Linked DNA regions of Homo sapiens. The protein of the gene in region 2 interacts with the protein of the main gene of each other region in a biochemical or structural test. Each region holds a gene or a part of one and is shown on either strand. Other genes may lie near its edges.

What was found.
Region 1: the proteins of FBXW2 (region 2) and MSN form a complex in vitro, tested with the Homo sapiens proteins (one study listed by BioGRID).

Annotation. Positions count from the first base shown.
Region 1 is NC_000023.11:65,709,556-65,722,145, reverse strand, and holds part of MSN (moesin), read right to left. Parts: intron 5,329-12,590; coding exon 5,245-5,328; intron 1-5,244. UniProt on the Homo sapiens protein: Ezrin-radixin-moesin (ERM) family protein that connects the actin cytoskeleton to the plasma membrane and thereby regulates the structure and function of specific domains of the cell cortex.
Region 2 is NC_000009.12:120,781,260-120,793,849, forward strand, and holds the start of FBXW2 (F-box/WD repeat-containing protein 2), read right to left. Parts: upstream 12,158-12,590; 5' UTR 12,095-12,157; exon of another isoform or gene 11,999-12,094; 5' UTR 11,890-11,998; exon of another isoform or gene 11,704-11,889; coding exon of another isoform or gene 11,628-11,703; intron 7,020-11,627; coding exon of another isoform or gene 7,000-7,019; coding exon 6,510-6,999; intron 1-6,509. UniProt on the Homo sapiens protein: Substrate-recognition component of the SCF (SKP1-CUL1-F-box protein)-type E3 ubiquitin ligase complex.

The DNA.
Region 1 (12,590 bases), on a different chromosome or scaffold from region 2:
AACAGAGAACATACTCAGCTGAGGTTCTAAGTTTCTTTCTTTTATCGTTTTTTGTTTGTTTGTTTAGAGATAGGGTCTTGCTGTTAACCAAGCTGGAGTGCAGTGGTGCAATCATAGCTCACTGTAACCTTGAACTCCTGGACTCAAGTGATTCTCCAGCCCCAGCCACCCAAGTAGCTAGGACTACAGGCATGCACCACCATGCCCAGCTAATTTTTAAGTTTTTGTAGAGATGGGGTCTCGCTATGTTGCCCAGGCTGGTCTGAAGCTCCTAGCCTCAAGTGATCCTCTCACCTTGGACTCCCAAAGCACTAGGATTACAGGCATGAGCCACCATGCCCAACCTAGCTAGGGTTCTAAGTTTTGGAAGCAGGTAAAGTGGAAGAAGGTTCCAGAGGACAGTTGATCAAAAGCATTAGAAAAACTGGAAATGCTATGTGCCCTGGTTTAAGCCCCAGCTATACCACTTCCTAGCTATATGACCTTAAACAGATAATTTCACCTCTGTAAGCCTCAGTTCCTCATCTGTAAGATGGAGATCCTCCTACTATAATATATGTTAGTTATTTTATAAAATGAAAAAAAAAAAGGTTTACTGTCCTTATTGCAGAGTATTCAAGTCCTAAGTACTTTACTGAGCCAGAAGAACTTCCTGATTTCATAGCTCCCTCATCTGAACTCTCAGGGCAATGCCACCTACTTTAGTCCTTAATAAGAACCACCAATATTAGAATGCTTGGTATGCACCAGGCATTTTACTTATTTGAGGATTAAATCACAAAATCTGAGATTAGCATGATTATCATTTTACAAAGGAAAGGAAAGTACTGAGAGGCTAAATGAGCCATCCAAGGTCACACAGCGAAGTAACAGGACAGAATTTGAACTCAGGGCTGGTTCTAAATCCTATGCTTTATATATCACCCCATGGAACCTGACCTCAAGGGCGTTTATTTCTTTCTTTGTGGGTAGAGAGTTGCATGTGCCTTTCTATGCTTTTATAGGTAAGGAACTCCAAGTTCCTGAAGAACAGAGATGGTGTTCGACAGTGTAGACCTTCAGTCAATATTAAATGAATCAGTAAATAGATGAATGAATCGATGCTTTGAGATTTCACCTCTGTCCTTGAGCACAGCCCTTTAGTGGCACCTAGGTAATCCAAGATCAAAAGCTTTAGAAGTTGAAGCAAGTGACAAAATCACTATAGCAAAACATGTTCTCTCTCCCCTCTAGCTGTAGCACACTCACAAGAAGAGAGGTAAATGAGACAAACTATGAGTCCTACTTCCCTTTCCCACCAGGCCCTAGACTTCCTCAAGCTATGGCATCCCATTGTTGCCTATTATTTATTGCTGGTGCCAAGGAGTACTTCCTCTCTGGTTGGCTTCCTCTCTGGTCATTGGCCAGATGACTGCTGCGTTCCAGGATGGCCATAAAGCTTTTGCCAATTCCTGCCAAGGAGTCTAGCTCCTTCCTCCCAGGCCCAGGCTCTACCAGGAGGGCCTCCTTGAATGATGGGTCCCAAGAGCCAGACAGAACGGACTTCCTCCCTTATGCCTCATCAAGTTAGAGAGAGAAGAGCTCACATCCCCCAAATGCCTATGAACACATAACTCTACTGATTCCTGACCTGACCTGCCTTGGCCTCAAGAGGGCCAAATGCTCAATTCCTTGAGTTCAAATCTTTTTCCCTGTATTTTCTCACCTGTGGGGTCCACCTCTGTCCCTCTGACTCACAGAATGTGACTGCCCCCCTCCTTCTTATGATAGTCCTTCAGAGGTCTGAAGACAGAAAGCATATCTTCCTTGAGTCTTCTCTAAGTTGAATACTCCCAATCACCCCAAACAGAGTAGTGCAGTGCAGGAAAAGTATAGTTTTGTGATCAGAGTTGTATTCAAAATTCCATATCACAACTTACTAACTACATGACCTAGAGTATGTTCTTTCACCTCACAGAGGCAGGAGCATTGTGAGGATTAAAGCGCCTAGCCAGGAATAGGCCATAGTATGTGCTCAATAAATGATACTTCTCAAGATAACAATGATGAGAAGTCATGGACTTCTTGGTTTCCAAGTCTCCCAAAGGCTTTGTTTTGGAAGCAGTAGCATTCAGAACTAGCATACCAATCTGCCCAGGGTTCCCTACTATCTGGGGTTCCCTACTATCTGGACTTCCCTCAAATCCACACCCACAGCACACAAACCAAACCAACACTAACAAAAAACTACCAGGCATTGAGGTTTTTTGAAGTTAATAAACCTCTTTGTTCAAGAATTTTTCTGCCCCCACTAGGCTCCAAATCATGCCTTCCTCATCCTCCACAGCCATCCCCCTGCAATGCACATATACAAAGCCCCCAGTGTTGAGGGTAGAGGATGGCGTCATCTGGTTTGGGATGGGGAATTAGTAGAATCAGGGCTCTTGGAAGGAGTATAGGTAAATGTCAAAGGAGCCTCTGGCTCCCAGCTGGTCTGTAAAATCTGCACTGACTAACCGCTTCCCTCTCTAATAGCTGCTACCCAGAATGATACTGCTGTCTAAAGCAAAGGGCCCAAAAGCCTATGTGTTCTATGGACACTTCCTCCCTTTTGTCTTAGAGACAGTAAAAAGCCTGTCAAGGAAGAGATGATCCCCCTGCCAGCTAGCCCTACCTCCTCACATATGCCAGCAGCTGATCATACTCAGGTGAGGCATTTCTCTCCTTTTTACAGAAAAGGATTGTCTGAAATCCCAATACTAGGAACAGAAATGGGAGAGAAAGAGAGATGGAATGCACAAATAAATGCCAGAGATAAATTTTCTGAGAGATAACCAGATTTGAGAAACAAGTTAGGCATTGTACAGATGAGAAACTGAGGCCCAAATAAGGGAAACGTTTGTATCACAGCGAATTAGTGATAGAGCCAACCCTACAGCCCAAGATTCATGACTTTCTATCCAGGCCCTTTTGACTTCACTAGGCTGTCCCTTTAAAAGTTCTCCAATATAACCTCCATGTGAAGAGAGAATGCAAAGCACAATTATAATTAGAATGCATTTAGTCATTCCAGACTAGCACCATAATCACTTGTGAGCTATGTGAATGTAAGCACATCACTTTAATTGTAGTAAACTTGTATTTAAATATTCCTCAGACTAATTTGTATTTTCACCAATTAAGTATCAATGATTACACTTTGCCATTCAAAGTAAAACAAACACAAAACAAACTCCAGAGAAGTAAGTTCCACCTAAATCTGAAGTTAGATATTCTGAGGATCATTAAGCCCATCTCCCAATTCTCCCAATTCTAGATTATTTTTCTTTACTTTTTTTTTTTTTTTTTAGAGACAGAGTCTTGCTCTGTCACCTAGGCTGGAGTACAGTGGCGTGATCATAGCTCACTGTAACCTTGAACTCCTGGGCTTGAGCAACCCTCCTGGCACAATCTCCTGAGTAGCTGGGACTATAGGTGTGCACCACCATGCCATGCTAATTTTTAAATTTTTTGTAGAGACAGGGTCTCGCTGTGTTACCCAGGCTGGTCTCGAGCCCCTGGGCTCAAGCAATCCTCCCATCTCAGTGTTAGGATTACAGACATGAGCCACCACATCACGTCAACTCCAGCTCAATTAATAATACAAGAAGCACAATGGTATTGGAAAGGGAGCTATCATTTATTACTTCTCTACCATATGCTGGATGCTTTCTTCCAGCTAACACTTTCTTTCCTATTTGTGTTTTCTTATCTTTCTCACCTATTTCGAATTTATCTTTTTGGATTGGACATCCTTATATGCCACTATAATCAGATTTTTGAGTAACAGGTAAGATACAAAACATAACACACTCACAAAAATCCTGTGAGGTAAGTATTAGATATTTCTCGGGGGGAGGGGATGAAGATACCAACCCAGAGAGTTCAATAATTTTCCCAGGGTCTAACTAGGAAAATGAGGATTTTGTGTCCTCATCTGTAAAACATGCCCATACTAATTCATGCACTCACAGAGCTTTGTGATAGTCAAATGCTTATCATAATACTTAGCATACACTGAGTCCTGGATAAATGTTAACTCTCATCTGTATTAGCCACAGACAATAATTTTCCCACTCTATGTAATAAGAACTCAGAAGGTGTACCCAAGCTGTCCTCAAATTTCTAGCCCTCTCCTACCCCTGTCTCCATTCTACTCTTGTCTTTTCTCTCACCAGTCAGAAGTATTCACAGGAATAGAATTAGCTTATTTGAACACTACCTCCTTCTTTTTTTCTTCCTCTCTCCAACCCTGGGGAAGTTCTCATATGGTAGAAGGACACAGAGAGCAAGGAAGAAAGGGAAGCAAGAGGGCCTGGAGAATCCATCAGGGTGATATGCAGCCTAACATCCTGGACAATAACTCAGACCTCCACTTCATCGGAGTCTGGTGGAGAAATAGGATAATGGCCTGTCTGGTGAGGTCCCAGCCTCTGGAAATGGGAGCCTCATTTTTGCTCCTAGAAGTCTGGCCACAGACGGCACATTCCCTTGAATGCTAAAAATGTCTGTAGCTGCCATCTGTTTATTATAGTATACAGTACATCCTTTCTGACAATAATGATTCACAATGAAGGGACACCCCTTGGGTTGGAGATGGGAATGACCTCTTCACTATGGCGAGTAAGCAATTATCTTCATGGCATGCCTGTAGGAGATGAAGCAGCCTCCTACTGCATCCATCAACTCCCATGTTGTCCTAAGTCCCAACATTCTTTTGAGAGAAATGTGCATAGAGCTTACTACCTCAGGGAGAGTAAGTTAGTTTCCTTCTACTAGGAAGCAAAAACATGGGACAGAGGCAGTGTGGTGCAGTGGCAACAATGTGGAGTGCAAATCCCAGCCAAATATCATTTGGGTGCAATTAAGTTATTTAACTTCTGAGCCTCATCATTAAAATGGAGAAGACATCACTTACATGTTTCAGAGTTAAAAGGAAGGCTCCATATGCTAAGATTTTTAAAGCATCTAGCATAGAATATACACCATTTTCTTTTCTCCCTTATTCAGGACCAAAGATAAAATTAATCAGGACCATAGGGTGCAGGCTGCCAAAGTTTAACTTTGCCTCCTTTCATATTAAGTCTGGAATCAGCCTTCATTTTGATCTATCTTGGAGTGAACAGGAAGAGAGATTCTTTGACAAGAGGCAAAAGTCATGGATTGTTGGCATTGTGGTGGAAGCTATTCAGAGAAGGAGAGGAGGCTAAGGAGTCTCCGCCTTACCTGGTCAAATAGCTGCTTCCCGGTGGTGTTGGGCTGGATGGCAAACTCCAGCTCTGCATCCATGGTGGTCACACGCACACTGATCTAGGATGAGATCAAAGGAAGCAGGTTAGTCATCTGGCTCTGTGTTCAACAGAGCCTGAGACAAGTGTCTCTGCTCAACCACAGAGGAAGGAGTTAGGATGCTAAGAGCCTGGGCAACTTAGATACTGATGGGGATGAAGGGAGAATATTGACCCAAACACAACCCCTGCTCCCAAGCAGCTTATTGAAGACAAACAACACAGCCACAGAGCAATACTTACCAAAGAACAGACAAGCATGAAGGCCGGGTGCAATGCCTCATGCCTGTAATCCCAGCACTTTGGGAGGCCGAGGTGGGTGGATTGCTTGAGGCCAGGAGTTCGAGACCAGCCTGGGTAACATGGCAAAACCCCATCTCTACTAAAAATACAAAAATTATCCGGGCATGGTGGTGCACACCTGTAGTTCAAGCTACTTGGGAGGCTGGGGTATGAGAATCACTGGAACCCAGAAGGTAGAGGTTGCAGTGAGCCGAGATCACACCACTGCACTCCAACCTGGGCAACAGAGCGAGACTTTGTCTCAAAAAAATTTTTAAAAAAGAATGCAGATCAGCCTACAACTAAGAGCAGGCAAATGATAACTGTACTTCTTCCAGGAAGGCCTTTCCATCTATACTAGACAGCTTCATCTCACAGGGTTCTCTTCTCACCTCTGATCTACCTGGATTATCTATAGCACTGGTAAACAATTGCAGAGGCAAATTAATATCAGGACAAAGAGCACTGGGTTCCACATGATAATCTAAAGGGCAGAAAAAGCTTTCAATAAAATCTAACACCCCTTCATGTTAAAAGTTCTCAATAAACTAGGTATTGAAGGAGCATACCTCAAAATAATAAGAGCCATCTGATAAAGCCACAACCAACATCATACTGAATGCGCCAAAGCTGGAAGCATTCCCTTTTAAAACCGACACAAGACAAGAATGCCCTCTCTCACCACTCATATTCAACATAGTATTAGAAGTCCTGGCCAGAGCAATCAGACCAGAGAAAGAAATAGAGGGCAACCAAGCAAGAGGAGAGGAAGTCAAACTATCCTTGTTTGCAGATGACATGATCCTATATCTAGAAAATCCAATAGTCTCGGCCCAAAAGCTCCTTAATCTGATAAATAACTTCAGCAAAGTCTCAGTGTACAAAAATCAACATACAAAAGTCACTAGCATTCGTATACACCAACAACAGTCAAGCCAAGAGCCAAATCAGGAAGGCAATCCCATTCAGAACTGCCACAAAAGAATAAATATCTAGGAATACTGTTAACTAGGGAAGCGAAAGATCTCTACAAGAAGAACTACAAATCACTGCTCAAAGAAATCAGATATGACACAAACAAATGGAGAAACAGTCCATGCTCATGAATAGGAAGAATCAATATTGTTAAAATGGTGATACTGCCCAAAGCAATTCATAGAATAGACTCAATGCTATTCCTATCAAACTACCAATGACATTCTTCACAGAACTAGGAAAAACTATTTTAAAATTCATATGGAAACAAAAAAACAGCCTGAATAACCATGGCAATCCTAAGCAAAAAGAACAAAGCTGGAGGCATCATGCTACCCAACTTCAAATGATACTAGAGGGCTCCAGTAACCAAAACAGCATTGTACTGGTACAAAAACAGACACAGAGACCAATGGAGCAGAATAGAGAGCCCAGAAATAAGGCCACACACCTACAACCATCTGATCTTTGACAAAGTCGACAAAAACAAGCAATGGAAAAAGGACTCCCAATTCAATAAACAGTGCTGGGATAACTGGTTAGCCATATGTAGAAGATTGAAACTGGACCCCATCCTTATCTCACATATAAAAATCAACTCTATATGTATTAAAGACTTAAATGTAAAAGTAATGTAAAACTCAAAATTATAAAAACCCTCAAAGAAAACCTACGTAATACCATTCTGAACATAGGAATGGACAAAGATTTCATAACAAAGACGCCAAAAGCAATTGCAACAAAAGCAAAAATTGACAAATGAGATCTAACTAAACTAAAGAGCTTCTGCACAGCAAAAGAAACTATCGAGTTAACAGGCAACCTACGGAACCAGAGAAAATATTTGCAAACTATGCAACTTACAAAGGTCTAATATCCAGCATCTATAAGGAACTTTAACAAATTTACAAGAAAAAAAACAACCCCATTAAAATGTGAGCAAAGGATATGAAGAGACACTTTTCAAAAGAAGACATACATGTGGCCAAGAAGCATATATAAAAAATTTACATCATTAGAGAAATGCAAATCAAAACCACAATGAGATACCATCTCACACAAGTCAGAATAGCTATTATTAAAAAATCAAAAAAAAATAATAACAGATGCTAGTGAGATTGCAAAGAAAAGGGAACCTTTATACACTGTTGGTGGGAGTGTAAATTAGTTCAACCATGGTAGAAAACAGTGTGGCAATTTCTCAAAGACCTGAAAACAAAACTACCATTCAACCCAGCAATATCATTATGGGGTATATATCCAAAGGAATATAAATCATTCTATCATAAAAATACATAAACGCGCATGTGCATTGAAGCACTATTCACAATAGCAATGACATGGAATCAACCTAAATGCCAGTCAATGGTAGACTGGATAAAGAAAATGTATGTTAGTATGCAGCCATAAAAAACAACAAGATCATGTCCTTTGCAGGAACATGAATGGAGTGGAGGTCATTATCCTTAGCAAACTAATGCAGGAACAGAAAATCAAATGCCAGACTGGGCATGGTAGCTCACACCTGTAATCCCAGCACTTTGGGAGGCCAAGATGGACGCATCCCTTGAGGCCAGGAGTTCAAGACCAGCCTGGACAATATAGCGAAACCCCATCTCTACTAAAAACACAAAAATTAGCCAGGCAAGGTGGTGCACACCTGTAATCCCAGCTACTTTGGTGGCTGAGGCACGAGAATCGCTTTAACCCGGGAGGCAGAGGTTGTAGAATACCACATGTTCTCACTTATAAGTGGGAATTAAATGATGAGAACACACAGACACATAGAAGGTGGAGGGTGGGAGGAGGGAGATGATCAGGAAAAAATATTTTAATAACTAATGGGTACTAGGCTTAATACCTGGGTGATAAAATGATCTGTACAATGAACCCCCATGACATGAGTTTACCTTATGACAAACCTGCACATGTACCCCTGAACTTAAAATAAAAATTAAAAACAAAGAAGAACACTGGATTCCAAGCCTAGCATGTAGCTGGTCAAATCTACAACCTTGGATAACTCCTGTCCTTTTCCTGGGCCTTAGTTTCCCTTACCTGTGCAAAGGCAGGAATGGGATGGAGGGCAGCCAATTAAACTAGATAAATGGTCCAAAGACCATTTCAGTGCTGATGTCGGTGGTTCTATATACTGCCTTGCATTGCTAATGCTTCCTATATTTATGTCTCATTGGCTTCCTTAGGCTCAAGAGGGGAAGGGGGCCTCAGTAGAGGTGGGTATGGGTGGCATAGAGGGGCTACCAAAGCCAACTCAGTGGGAGGACAAAGGTGCAGAAACAGGCCCAGACCAAAATAAGAGACAGCCACACACATGATTTCACGGGCACTAGAAAAAATACCACCTTTACAAATAGATCCTCGAAGCTAGGTCAATGATAGCTGAAATTTCATAATTAGAGATTTAGTCCTTTGGCTGAAAACTCAGTAGTAATGGTAGCAGTAGTAATAGTAACAGGCAGCAGCTTTCCTGTATCAAGACTTGCTACTCACCAGGCACTTCATATGTACTACCTCATTTAATATCAATAATCACCCTGTGAAGTAGAGTATTATCTCCACATTGGAGATAAAGAAATAGGTATTTGTCTAAAGTCACATTGCTATTAAGCAGGGGAGACAGGGTTTGAATCCAGGTCTAAATCCAAACCTCACAATGTAAACCAATATGCTAAATTCCTCTTACAGAGTACAAAAGTCTCCCATTAAAAGAAAAAAAAGATTGATTTTTAGTTGTTAGATATTTTGCTTAAATAATGTATATAGTACAGCCACAAAATGGCTTCTTATATGGTCATACAAAATCTTTATGAAGACTATTTCATGCTCACGGAAGACACTTTAGTAATATTGAGGAAATGTAAACAGTATTTCATAGAGTCCGTGAGCTCAACTTTGTAAAATGTATACATAGAAGGATGATTGGAATCTTGTCCAAGTATTAGTCAGGCTTGGTTTTGGGGTGGTGATCTTATGGGTGCTTTCTCCTTTCTTTAAACTAAAAAAAAAAAAAAAAAATCTAATCTACATTTTCTAAGTTGGTCACATACTGCTTATAGTATTGAGGGAAAGCACTAGATATAGTATTGCCAAAGATGCAAATTTCCATGGAGTGAGTAAGACATTAAACCTTATCAGTCTTTGAACCTCTAGGACTTTCCTGAACACACGGGTCAGGAGCAGGGAAGAGGGGGCCAGGCAGCTATTTTGCCAGATAAACAATTACGATGAGGATCAGGCCCAGAAAACAACTTTGTAAATAAATCTCGCTAGGGAGCCAAGGAGGAAATCTATTTTAGGATTGACAATGGGACAGGAAAGGCCCTGAAGGCAGGAACAAGTAAGGCAAGTACCCCAGTGGGAGTAAGGCAAGGTTAGCCACTTTGATTTGGTCCTACCCTAGGCTTCCTGCCAAGTCAGTGACCCCTACAGAATGGGCCGTCATAAAGTAGGATGGGGCCATTGGACTGGAATTTGAGGGGCACCATACTATATCCAGCCTCAAATCACCCTTGAGCTGGGTCAAGGGTGACCTCAAAACACCAATGACTGAAGGGACAGGAGAGAATAGAAAGGGGGCAGTGGGCTTTTTAGAATAATAGACTTCATTCTCAACTCAAAGTTTACGTCTTACTTAGAATTACCTTTCCAGTACTCAAGATTCAATGGGTACTCATGCAAGATGTTGGCTAAATGAATGGGTACCAAACAAGGGATATTGGAGATAGATACAGCATAATATACACATACAAAGATGGGGAAATTTGACATCTTGACTTTTTTGTGCCACGAATCATTCTTGCCTGTCTAGTGAAGCCTATGGACCCCTTCTTAGAATATTTGTAAATGCATGAAATAAAGTAGATACAATATAACAAAATTATATCGAAATATTTGAAATATAAATCAAAATTTAATAATATGTGCTTATTATCATATTAAGTAATTACCGAGCACTAGGTCTTATTAGTTAGTTATTGCCACTGTAATTTCAAACGTGTATTGAGCATAAATAATATTTTGAGAAATATACAATAACTAATTGTGATATAAAAATATGTATGTTAGGGGCCGGGTATGGTGTCTCACGCCTGTAATCCCAGCACTTTGGGAGGCCAAGGCGGGCGAATTACTTGAGGTCAGGAGTTCGAGACCAGCCTGGCCAACATGGTGAAACCCCATCTCTACTAAAAATACAAAAATTAGGCCAGGCGCGGTGGCTCACGCCTGTAATCCCAGCACTTTGGGAGGCCGAGGCAGGTGGATCACCTGATGTCTGGAGTTCAAGACCAGCTGACCAACATGGTGAAACCCCACCTCTACTAAAAATACAAAAAAATTAGCTGGGCGTGGTGGAGCATGCCTATAATCCCAGCTACTTGGGAGGCTGAGGTCGGAGAATCCCTTGAACCTGGGAGGCGGAGGTTGCAGCAAGTTGACATCGCGTCATTGCACTCCAGCCTGGGCAAAAAGAGCAAAACTCCATCTCAAAAAAATAATAATAATACAAAAATTAGCCGGGCATGGTGGTGCACGCCTGTAGTCCCAGCTACTCTGGAGGCTGAGGCAGGAGAATCGCTTGAACCCAGGAGGCAGAGGCTGCAGTGAGCCAAGATCACGTCACTGCACTCCAGCCTGGGCAAAAAGAGCAAAACTCCATCTCAAAAAAATAATAATAATACAAAAATTAGCCAGGCATGGTGGTGCACGCCTGTAGTCCCAGCTACTCTGGAGGCTGAGGCAGGAGAATCGCTTGAACCCAGGAGGCAGAGGCTGCAGTGAGCCGAGATCACGTCACTGCACTCCAGCCTGGGTGACAGAGCAAGACTTCATCTAAAAAAAAAAGTACATTAGATAGTTTCTGTATAAACTTCTATTATTAAGAAACCTTAAAAAAAGGGTAGAATCCAGGAAAACACTCCACAGCCTAAGAGTTGGTAACAAGGTCATGGGTACTGCTATTATTGCTGCCTTTATTTTATTTTTATTTTTATTTTTATTTGCCTACATTATAATTGAACAAATGGCTAAATTACAAAGGAGAGGTTGGTAAAAAACAAATAAGTAATTTTCCTCCATCCAAGTTCATATATCCTTCCCACTTCAAATTCTGTCCATGGACCCCATAGAGGTCTGAGGACCCCAGGTTAAGGAGCTTCCTATAAATTCATTTCAATTCACCCAATATTAATGGAACACAATGTTTAAGGAACTATGGTTGGAACAGACCAGTAGAACCGGTCCCTGATCTCAAGGCACTTACTGAAAAACACAAAAACTAAAATGTACAAGGGAGACCCTGAAAAGTGCCATAATAGAAGAACAGAGAAAACCTTTCGTGGAAATTAGGAACCACAGTTCAAAGTAGTGTTTGCACTGATTTCCAAAGAATAAGCTGGATTGTGGAAAAGAAAGACTGTGAGGGTAGGCACAAGAGCACTCAAATGTCCCAGGTAGAGAAAACAACATGTATGATGGCCCAGAAGGAGGCAAGGATGCAGATGGTCCCTTTAGAAGTCAGTCCTACTCCAGGGTGAATGAGGCCTGCAAAGTGAAGAGAGGGCAGAGTCTAGGAAGATAAGTGGAGGGCATTGAAGGCTATGCTAGAAGGTTGGGCCTTAATCCTGTTGGCAGTGGCCAGCCAGTCTAGAGGTTCTGGGCAGGGTGGGGCACAATCAGAACCAGGCTTTTTGGAAGAAAACACCCAGGAAGGAAACTAAGGGGGGGTGGGATTCCAGGGACATATCCTAAAGCCTAGGAGTTCCCTTTAATTCACAATATTGGAAATAATTTTCAAAGGAAGCAAGCCAGTGTCTCGAACAGATCATGTCAATTGTAGGTCATGCCAATCCAGCGTCTTCAGGGCACTGATCAAGGGTGAAGCCCAGTGCTGGCCCAAAGTACGTAATCAAATATTCGTTAAACAAATATTTATTAAATAAATCAATTGGTAAAGAAGGGCCCATCCTGAGTGATGAATAAGCATGTCAGAGAGGCTAGGGTTGGCCA
Region 2 (12,590 bases):
CAACTATTAAATATCTCTATATGCAACACAAAAATTATTGAAAAGGAACTGGGATCAAGTCATAAAGAACTATTTGGAATCATTCAAAAAACCGTCTAGGAGTTATTTACAATGCTTGTCAAAAGCACTGCCTAAAACATGAACACTGATTATGAAAACAGTTCAGTCTGACTGCGAAATAGTGGCAAGGTTTGGCTGCAGAACTGGGTTAGGAGGTTGTTTAACTATGACCTTATTTGCATATCAGAAAGATCACTATGGCTATATCATGGAAAAAGGTTTGAAGGGGGGAAAACTAGAGGCAAGAAGGCAGTTAAAAACCAGGGGAGAGGACAAACAAAATGTGACACATACATGGAATATATTTTATATACATACACACACACACACACACACACACACACACACACACACACATACACACACACACATATATACATACATGGAATGGAGTTATTCAGCCTTAAAAAGGAATAAAATTGGCCGGGTGTGGTGGCTCACACCTGTAATCCCAACACTTTGGGAGGCCGAGGCGGGAGGATCACCTGAGGTCAGGAGTTTGAGACCTGCCTTACCAACGTGGAGAAATCCCATCTCTAATAAAAATACAAAAATTAGCCAGGCGTGGTGGCGCACGCCTGTAATCCCAGCTACTTGGGAGGCTAAGACAGAAGAATTGCTTGAACCCGGGAGGCGGAGGTTGCGGTGAGCCAAGATGGCGCCACTGCACTCCAGCCTGGGCAACAAGTGCAAAACTCCGTCTCAAAAAAAAAAAAAAAAGAATAAAATTCTGAGATGTTATGATATGGAAGAACCTTGAAGACATCATGCTAAGTGAACTAAGCCAGCCACAAAAGAACAAATACTGTATGATTCCACTTATATTAGGTTCCTAGAGTAGTCAAATTCATAGAAAGTAGAATGGTGGGCCAGGCATGGTGGCTCATGCCTGTAATCCCAGAACTTTGGGAGGCCGAGGCTGGTTCACCTGAGGTCAGGAGTTTGAGACCAGCCTGGCCAACACGTTGAAACCCCGTCTGTACTAAAAATACAAAAATTAGCCAGACACGGTGGCGCATGCCTGTAATCCCAGCTACTCGGGAGGCTGAGGCAGGATAATCGCTTGAACCTGGGAGGTGAGGTTGCAGTGAGCCAAAATTGAGCCACTGCACTCCAGCCTGGGCACCAAATTGAGACTCTGTCTCAAAAAAAAAAATAAAACAAGCAAGCAAGCAGAATGGTTGTTTTGCCACAGGCTGTGGGGGAAGGGGCATGGGCAATGTTTAACTGACAGGGTTTAGGCTGGACATGGTGGCTCATGCCTGTAATCCCAACACTTCAGGAAGCTGAGGCAAGAAGAGTGCTTAAGCCCAGGAGTTAGAGATCATCCTGGGAAACATGGTGAGACCCCATCTCCATAAAAAATACAAAAATTAGCTGGGCATGGTGGCACACACACGTAGTCCCAGCTACTTGGGAGGCCAAAGTGGAAGAATCGCTTGAGTCCAGGAGGTAGAAGTTACAGTGAGCCAAGATCATGTCACTGTACTCCAACCACTCCAACCTGGGCTACAGAGTGAGACCTTATCTCAAAAGAAAACCCCCCCAAAAACAAACAAAAAAATTGGATACAGTTTAACTATATAGTGTATTATATACTGTTTATACAGTTAACACTGTATAGTGTTTAACTGATACCATTTTAGTTTGGGAAGATGTAAAGTTCTGGAAATGGATAGTGGTGATGACTGCACAACAACGTAATGTACTTAATGGCACTCAACTGTATGCTTTAAAATGATTAAAATGGTAAATTTTATGTTATGTATGTTTTCGCACAATTTGCAAAAAAAAAGGTTATCCAAACTAATTATTTAAACTAGTTTTTATAGGAAAACATTGTGCCAGTTTTACACCCTAAAAAAAAATAATAATAATCAGGTTGAGTCGAGTTCCATTTATAGTGATGCAAGTCTACTCCTGAGAATCCTTTAGGAATCACTGTTCTCTGCTCCTTTCTGGCTTTATGTCAGCCTCCCCTCTGGACTCCCATTTGCTGCACTGGCTAACCCAACATGTTTTCAAAGAGGTCACCAGTGATGCAGCATAGAGGTGAAAGAGGACTAAAGAAATGTGGACTCTCACACTGCACGAAAGAAAAAAATCCCTCCCCATTCAGTATCTTAAAAATCTTAATAATACTTTAAAAAAAATCAGACTATTGCACAGAACTCTAGATTTCAGGCTTCTCTTGAAGTCAGATCTAACAACTCTGACCCTGAATCCCACCCACATGGCAATAATTTATTACAATGGAGCACCAGCTGCACTCTTTAGAAAGGCAAGTGTTCTTGATTTGCTATAGTCCACACAGAGACTTTTACCTCAGTCAGGTCATCTTCCTGGTCCCAGTGTGTATGTTCCACAAGAAAAAACTGCTCTAATTCATCCGTGTATGCCCTCACATTGTTTTTCAAACAGTAGGCATCCCATAAGTAAATATCTACTGAACAGCACAAAGCATAATAGATTCCTTTCTTACCATTTCAGAAATAAATTGCGAAAGAGAAAGATAACTACCTCAATGTCATTAGCCATTAATCTCTTCAATAAAACTGTCTATTGCTTACTCAAGGCACTAATGTGAGAGTCACTAAGTTTATTGCCAAATTCAGGGTTTCCCAATTCCACCACAATGAGAATTCAATCTCTTAAGTAACAAGATGACACAAACACATGTACAATTCTGTCACAAATACCTCTCTTCACAGTTCCAGGGATGCTGCTGTTAGAAAAATTAAACTAATACTTTGGATCATTTTCAACCACTGCACAGCGTAATTTTAAATATGCAAACCTGATGAATTTAATCAGAATAAAAATCACATTAACATACAGACCCACCAAGAGAATAATCTTAAAATGTAGAATTGTAGATATTAACTTTCCAGGTAGTTAGAGAATTCAGTGAATATTTCCCATTTACTTCCACTCCAAGTAACTGCAGTTTTTACTACATTTCAAAAATAAGGTTTGATGAGAGAAGAAAAAAACTTTTTAAAGCAAGAGGACCTAGGCATAGTGGCTCACACCAGTAATCCTAGCATTTTGGGAGGCTGAGACGGGCGGAGTGCTTGAGCCCAGGAGTTCGAGACCAGCCTGGGCAACATGGTGAAATCCTGTCTCTACAAAAAATACAAAAAGGATCCAGGCATAGGGTTGCTCGCTTGTAGTCCCAGCTAAACCCGGGAGGCTGACATGGGAGGATCACCTGAGCCCAGGAGGTGGAGGTTGAAGAAAGCCAAGATCACATCATTGCACTCCAGGATGGAGCTACCCAGTGAGAGGTTGTCTCCAAAAAAGAAAAAAAAAAAATGCGGCTGGGTGCAGTGCCTCACACCTGTAATCCCAGCACTTTGGGAGGCCGAGGCAGGCAGATCATCTGAGATCAGGAGTTTGAGACCAGCCTGACCAACATGGTGAAACCCCTTCTCTACTAAAAATACAAAAATTAGCCGGGCTGTGGTGGCGCGTGCCTGTAATGCCAGCTACTGAGGAAGCTGAGGCGAGAGAATCGCTTGAACCCAGGAGGAGGAGGTTGCAGTGAGCCGAGACTGCGCCACTGCACTCTAGCCCGGGTGACAGAGGAGCTCCTGTTTCAAAAAAAAAAAAAAAAATGCTACAGGTGGTTGTGAAAAAATGGTCAACTGCCAGTAGGAGCTCCAAGCTCCAAGATGATACTGCATCTTAATATTTTTTTTTTTTTTGAGACAGGGTTTTGCTGTGTTGCCCAGGCTGGAGTGCAGTGGCACAATCTTAGCTCACTGCAACCTCCACCTCCTGGGCTCAAGCGATCCTCTCACCTCAGTCTCCCAAGTAGTTGGGACCACAGGTGTGAGCCAGCACACCCAGCTGTTTTTTTATTTTTTTGTAGAGATGGGATTTTGCTATGTTGCCCAGGCTGGTCTCAAAACTCCTGGGCTCACATAATCTGCCTGCCTTGGCCTCCCAAAGTGTTGGGACTACAGGCATGAGCCCCCTCATTTGGTCAACTGCATCTTAATCTTTTAAAATCATGAGGCAAAAGAGACATGGAAAAGCCATCACCACAACAGAGAAAGTACATCAAAGCCTAGAAGAACTGGTGATGTTGTTCTAGTAATCAGGCTTGTAACACAAGGAAAATAAAGTGTGAAATAACTTCAGGATGACAAACCAAACCATGAAATGCTTTAAATCAAATGTTTATTTTCCAAAACCAGCAGAGTGTCTAGCATTTCAGAGAAAATATCACCACATAATACATACCCTTAATGAATAAAGAAATGCATTGTAAAACGGTCTTGAGAAATGATACATCTCAACATTAAAAATATTTAAATTGAGTCTGGTGAGACTCCTGAGGGAGAAGCAAGTTACTTAACACTATATTGGTATGGCATCAATTCAATCTATCTGGAAAGGGCACTAAGAAGAGCTATAAAATTGGGCCGGGCACGGTGGCTCACGCCTGTAATCCCAACACTTTGGAGGGTGGATCACCTGAGGTCAGGAGTTTGAGACCAGCCTGGGCAACAAGGTGAAACTCCGCCTCTACTAAAAATACAAAAAAAATTAGCCGGGTGTGGTGGCGCACACCTGTAATCCCAGCTACTCGGGAGGCTGAGGCAGGAGACTCGAACCCTGGAGGCAGAGGTTGCAGTGAGCCGAGATTGCACCACTGCACTCCAACCTGGGTGACAGAGTGAGACTCCATCTCAAAAAAAAAAAAAAAAAAAAAAAAAGAGCTATAAAATAATTCATACTTCTGTATCTGGTGATTCTACTTTTAGACTTCTATCCCAAATGAATTCAAGGGAAAAAGAGGTAATACAAAGACACTAATAAAAACAGAAACAATCTGAATATGCATTGATATGGTTAAGCTTTGTGTCCTCACCCAAACCTCATCCTGAACTGTAATCCCCAGGTATTGAGGGACAGACTTGGTGGGAGGTGACTGGATCATGGGGGTGGCCCCCCATGCTGTTCTCATGATAGTGAGTGAGTTCTCTCCAGACCTGATGGTTTTATAAGGGCCTCTTCCTGCTTCACTCACACTCTCTCTCTCCTGCTGCCTTGTGAACAAGGTGCTTGCTTCCCCTTCGCCTTCCGCCATGATCATATTGCCTTCTGACATGATTGTAAGTTTCCTGAGGCCTCCCCAGCCATGTGGAACTAGGAGTCAATTAAACCTCTTTTCTTCATAAATTACCCGGTCTTAGGCAGTTTTTTTAGCAGTCTGAGAATGGACTAATATATGCATTAATATGGAAATGGCTAAATAATGACTATTGATATATTTACAAAAAGGAACAGTTTATACCGTAATACACAAATGTTTATTGGAAGTTATCTTGGATGAAAAAGAACACCAAGTATTTCTATATATTATATACAATGTAAGGAAACAGGCATTGGGATTATTAGCAAGAACTGCCTGGAGTTATTCTAAATGCTGCCTAAGAATTATTTACATTGCCTGTCAAAATGTATTATCTAACACATGGGCATTAGTTATAATCATATACAGAAACACACGTCCATTACAAATGGAAAATAACATATAATTTTAAATTTTTAATAATTATATTGTTTCATAAAATTACTTAATTGCCTAGTTAAAAAATATCCAGCTCTCTCTGTTCCCAGGCCCAAACTCCAACTTCTACTTCTTCTACTTAGAATCACAGGATTTCAGAGCAAGGAAGAAATATCTCCTTTCATATATACATATATATTTATTTTGAGATGGAGTCTCACTCTGTCACCCAGGCTGGAGTGCAGTGGCACCATCTCAGCTCACTGGAACCTCCGCCTCCCGGGTTCAAGCGATTCTCCTGTTTCAGCCTCCCGAGTAGCTGGGATTATAGGCGCATGCCGCCACGCCCGGCTACTTTTTCGTATTTCAGTAGAGACGGGATTTCACCATGTTGACCAGTCTGGTCTCGAACTCCTGAGCTCAGGCAATCCACCCGCCTCGGCTTCCCAAAGTGCTAGAATTACAGGCATGAGCCACTGCGCCCGACCTCCTTTCCCATATTTTAAAGATACAGAGAGGTTAAGTAATTTGGCCATAATGATCTAACTACTTGCTAGGATTAGATACCAATTTTTCCACTGTTTTTTTCCTCAAATATCAGTGCCAACAGAAAAAGAAACAGAATTTAGCAACAGAGGACTACACATGGAGGAAACACAAAGAAAAAGTAATCTATAGCTTTGTAATTCACATAATGTTTAAAAGACAGTCTGAAGTGTTTTTCTCATAAAATTTTATAAAAATGATTGTGTTCTCTAGAGAGAAGGAAGAGGATAAGGGGGGGGAACCACTCAGGATTAGAGAAAAAAAGTCACTGTACATATCTCATATAATCAACACTTGTCATTCTCAAAGCTCAAGACTGGTTCAAGATTACACCCTATGAAATACAAAACAAAACCCAAAAAGCAGTTTCAACATCTCTTACCTGTACAGAGAAGTCCATCTTTGTAGTAAAGTGCATACACTCTGGCACTGTGTCCAATTAATGACGAGGTTTCAAAGGCTTCATGGTCCTCCAGTTGCTTCATTCTCAAAATAGCCTTCAAATAAACCTTCTTCCAGTGCAAAGCGTCCTGAACAGAATCATCTATCTGCCAGCCCAAATTTTTACATGCAGTCTGCCACACCTCTGTACAGGCACTTATCACCTTATTCCACTGTTTAGAGACGAGGCAGCATGTGAGTAAAGTCTGAGGATCGAGCCATTTTAACAAATAAAAACTGAGCTCCAGGGGAAGGAGTTTGAGGAAGTCCCGCTTGAGGAGAGTCTCTAGGTTATTGGAGAGATGCCTGAGCTGGACTGCCCCACTCAGACTAATCAGGTGATCCAGAGTTTCATTTTTCTGCAAGTCCGTCAGAGAAAGAAATGTAACAGAAATGTTATCAAGCCATGTCTCAAAGTCCTTTCTCTCCATAAGGTTATGGAAAAATTTACCTGTGGCACATCAAAATATTGTATTAGTTCTGCTCAAAAAGACTGTTCAAGCAAGACTGCTAACAAATGAAGTATTAAAAATTAGTGTAAAAAATCTGCCATTACAACTTTATGCGTAGTTACATTACAACTTTACAGTTAATACACCATATTTATCTGAACACTTTCCATGCACACAAAAGAAAACACATTTGAGAAAACATACTTTAACAAATCATGAATCCAAAACATGTCAGTGAAACAGACTGGCGTGTGTGACTTATTCCTCTTGAAGTCTAGCACGTGCTACATGCATCTTCATAGTAATAGATTTACCAACAATTCATTATAAAACAGTATATTTTACAATACACCCTTCCCCCATCAAAACCATTATAAAACAATTTCCTTAATGAATTCCTTAATACATTCTATTTGGGTACTAAAATCACAAAAGCAAGCACCAGGATGTGACAATCAGAAACAGTCTCCTGAGCAGTAACCTGAGACACTGATTGTCATGGCAGGCACAACCTGTCACCAAAATCATAGAACTGACTACTTGGTTTTGCAACAGATGTTCAGATGAAAAGGTTTAGGGAAGAAAAGCAGGTGTGGTAAGTTATCTGCCTCAGGAATTCTGGTTCTTCCAACTTCTTTATGGCACTGCCTGTTTAGAACATGAATTATAAAAGAACTTATGTGGCTTTAGTCTGTTTTTCTAAACCTCATATGAGCTAGTGACAACTCTTAACCACGTGCCCCCGAGAGCCATGAGGGGTCCTGGAGGCCTGCACAAATAAAGCAAATTAATAATCCTGATGTTTATAAAACACCAGAAAATAGACATTATCATCTTCACTTTGCAAATGAGGAAACTACAGGTTAGAGAAGGTATGTGATTTGCCTATATTCACAGGGCTACTAAATAGCCACAGAACAGACTGGACGCCAGTGCTCTCAAGATCAGGTACCAAGCTCTCTCTCTAAAATAAGTGACAACCAGGAGAACCACGACCAAGTGGTAAGATCTGGAGGTAGTGTGTCTACCCGTTAGACCATTTTCTCCTTTAGGAGAATGACAAATTGCTCCTGAGCTAACTGTAACAAATAATTTTTTTTAAAGTATCCTGTATTAGTGTCAACAGGTGTTAATTCACTCTTAATGAGGATTAGACTAATGAAAGATTACAAAAAATATAACCAGTAAAAACTATCTTTCTCAAGACTATGTGTTGATAGATGTTAATGCTGGGTGATGTGTACATAGGGATTTATTATTCTCTTTATTTCCATATATTTAAATATTTCCATGGTTTAATAAAAACTTTCCTTCTGAATACTCAGTTTCTCACAAGACTGTCATATTAATTTTAAAAACATATGTCCAAATTAATGTGAAAAAGGAAAGTTAATTTCTTTCCAGACATATCACCTAGATCAGGTCTACACAAAAAGCAAGATCTCATCTTTCAACTTTGATAATGTAAGGTGAGTAAAATTGTAAGTGTCCAATATCAAATTTGGCAATAACATTCTTAGACAAATAAGCAATCTGATTTATTAGTAGAAGCAACCAAACCTTGCAATCACATCATCTGCTAACAGTTTTGATTTCTGGAACTGTGACTAGACTTCAAGATAATACGTTTCAAGCCAAAGTTTGGGCTAGAGAAGATTTATTAATCTGTATTAAAAATTTACCTAGCTGACAAAAAATAATCAGATGGCTAAAAGTTTTATCGACTTATCACGCAATAACAAGCCCCCTCCTTCCTCTAAATCCTAACAACCCTCTTATCTATACAACATTTCTTCAAAATCTCTACTTCTAAAAAATAATAATTTGCAACAAGACAAAGCAATTATCTTCTGTGGGCATCTGCATATTGTCACAATAGCTAGTTAATTAATACTGGTCAATTAAAAACACACACCAGGCTGGGCACAGTGGCTCACGCCTGTAATCACAGCACTTTGTGAGACTGAGGTGGGCTCGGCCGGATCACGAGGTCAGGAGATCGAGATCATCCTGGCTAACACAGTGAAACCCCATCTCTACTAAAAATACAAAAAATTCCCCTGGCATGGTGGTGGGTGCCTGTAGTCCCAGCTAGTCGGGAGGCTGAGGCAGGAGAATGGCGTGAACCCAGGAGGCGGAGCTTGCAGTGAGCCGAGATCACGCCACTGCACTCCAGCCGGGGCGAGAGAGCAAGACTCCATCTCAAAAAAGAAAAAAAAGAAAAAAAACCACACACCTGCTCCTGAAACATTTTTAACAGTGAAAAGTGTGGTGTGGCAAGCTTCCTCCATCACATCTACACATACATATATACACACATACATACACATGCTGACACACATCTATTGTAGAAATGCTTGTATTTAAGTGAGCTGAACTGTTATTCAAACGGCTACAAGGCAAATTTAGAATACTCATTAAAATATTATCAGGTTCCCATCATTCACAAATATCTAAGAGACATACTATAATATGCCAAATTCACATGTATACCTATGTAACAAACCTGCACGTTGTGCACATGTACCCTAGAACTTAAATTTAAAAAAAAAATGCCAAATTAATGTGCCCATGACACCGCTAAAGATTACGGAAGAAGCTTTTTCAGAGAGCACATCTAAAAAAATTCAGCCATGTCTCAGATTTATATATTCTCCTAACTCTTAATAAAAAAAATTTTCCCAACTCTTAGATTGCCTTTTAAACCACTCAATCCCTTGTAAGATTGAGCAGTTCACCTCTGATTATTCTGAAAAAGGCATTTTTTTCCCTAAAAAAGCAAGTCTCACTAACTGCAGAATGCACTATTTAAAAAACACCAATTTTTACTTTTCTGAACAGATCAACTAACTTTGGAGGGGGCCTTCTAAGGTAACAGGTCTAAACTGGACTCTTTTAGGCAGCCTCTAGAAATATCATACACTGGTTGCACAAACCTCAGGAAATGGGATTTCAATTCAACATGAGGAGCTTTTAAATCTCAGCGCTTTCCAACAATGGAATAGCTACCTCCAGAGTAGTGAGTTTCCCATTACCACGAACAGTCAAGGACAGTTGGACACAGAGGCAGAATGTGATAAATGAAAATACTTTGGAGGTTGGCCAGATGTTTTACTGATTCAGCCACTTCCTATGTGATTATGGGCATGTCCAACTAACTTTTAAGCTTCAGTTTTATCATCTGTAAAATGGAAGCCATCATCCAACTTGAAGGGTGAAACTCAGAAATATAGCAGGGACATGCTTAGCACAGTGTACAGTCTAGCGGGTAAAAACTCAAATGGTACTTTTTGTTAGTTTTACTACTATGAACACCTGGCAGTAAAGATTTCTGTGACACTAAGGGTGGAATGGACATGACCACTAACATCTCTTTTGACCCTATCATCTTATCACTAAGTTTCTCTTCAAAATACCTGGAAGAAAAACTCAAGGGCTCAAACTTACTAGGGGTTTAATTTTATAAAGAAGAGCACCTGTTTATTGGAGGCTCTAGTTTCCCAGTAGGTGCCTTATTCTACCCACATTCCCTGCTGTTTGGCCCCCTTACCCTACGTCCCTACCCCAGAGTTAACATTCAACTTGCCCTCTTGCCTTCAGTATCAATAATCACAAAGTGGGTCATGCAACAAAAAGACTCCTAAATTGGAAAATGAGAGCCTGGGTTTGGTCTCAGGTTCTGCCATTAACTCCCTATGTTACCTAGGCAACTCACATATTTATATTGGTTTTAAAGAAAAAGTACCACTGGTAAACATTATCTCATTTCATCTTCATAACCTCATGGAAGGTATCAGTAATGCCGCCCTTAACTAACATTAATGAGGAAATTTACGGCTCAAGAAGTGGAGTGGCCTTCCCAGAATGGCACAGGAAGTAGCAGGCTCAATATTTTGCCCAGTACCCATTCTCCCAAAACCTATACTCAGAGGTATTAGAGACAGGACCTTCTGGAAAACAGTGTAAATGTGTTTTCCCCTCCTCCTCTATCAGAACCTGGCCTAGTCAAGAGTGAAAGCAACATAATTGTTAGTGGTAGAGGGAAGGAGGCTTCATTTCCCCCTTTTCTTATCAAACAAAGAGCACAGAGGCGCTGAAAATGTATACACACCTATAAACTTACATATGCATAAAATGTATTCTGAATATTCAAGAAACTGATAACCCTGGTTGCCTCCAGAGAGAACTGGAGAGCTGCAGAATAGGAATGAGGGGTCCCTTTTTATTGTATACCTTTTAAAACTGAAAACCATGTTAAGTATAATATACTATCAAAAAATAGCCTTTAGTTTTAAGGTGAATTTTTTTAAAGCTTTGAAAGAATACAAATAATGTTTATAAAATATGTGTTCTGCAACTCCACTTGTTGCTGGGTGACCTTGGGCAAATCACTTCACCTGTCTCATGCCCTGTTTCCTCACTTGTAAAATACAGCCAAGAGCATTACCTACAAGGGTTTTTATGAGGGTTAAACAAGACAGTGCAAGTAAAGCGTTTAGCACAGTACTCGGCACGCTGTAAGCCTACAGTAAATGTCAGTTACCATTATTACTTAGCATTAATATTGTTATCTTTGCTTTACTTCAAGCAGCACCCCACATACACACCTGTTTTCATGGCATACCCACAATTATGGCGCAGTATAGCGCTTTGTACTTCATAAACCACCTCATCACACTTCATCGTCTTTCAAACGTTTGGTAGCCCTGGGACATCACTGTTAACTCATTTCGCAGCTAAGGAAATGGAGGCAGTAGGAGGCAGTAACTCCAAAACCCTGTTTTCCCGTCTCTAAAATCCAGATCCCATCAACCCATTCGTTGCTCCCAGGTCCCTTGCTCTCGGAATCGTGTTCCGCGCGGCACTGACCTGAGCGAGCGCCCCGGGGCCCGGGACCTCGCGCCGGGTTCACAGCTACTAGGCACGCTCGGACCGCCAGAGCCTTGCAGCGGCCGGGTCCGCTCCGCAGCCATGGCGCCTGCAGGGAAAGAAAAACAGCCAAGGCGCGGCGGGTCAGCAGAGCCGCGGGCGCCTAAGAGTCCCCTCCCCGACCGGCCCCGCCTCGCATACAGACCCGGACCTGCGGCCGCTGCTCCCGGTCCGCAGCCTCACAGGGGAGCGGCTTCCGGTGCTGCCTGCGTCATCTCCGCGCGTCCCTCAGCTCCGCGGCTCCCGGCGGAAGCGGCTGCACTTCCGGTCCCCGCCCGGAGGTGGGTGGTGGGAGGCTGGAGGCCGGGAGTAGGGGTGGGGAGAAGAGCGTCCCGGGAAGCTGAACGCGTGCCGCGCGGCCCTCACGGTGCTTAGGCTGGGTGCAACCTAGAACGGAGGTTCCTTTCGTACCGTACATCCAGGTTTGCACAGCGCGCTTATGTCCCTCCTCCAATCTGATCTTGCACCAGCTCTGCAGTAGTTTTTCTTATTATCCTCATTTTACGGAGGAGAGGGAGCTGTGGCTTAGAGAAGTTAAGAGACGTGTCCAAATTCATACAACCTGTTGGGCACCTCTTTATCCCGAACGCTGTTCTAGGGGATAGGGTTAGTGAACAAAAAACGCAAAAGCCCCTGACCGC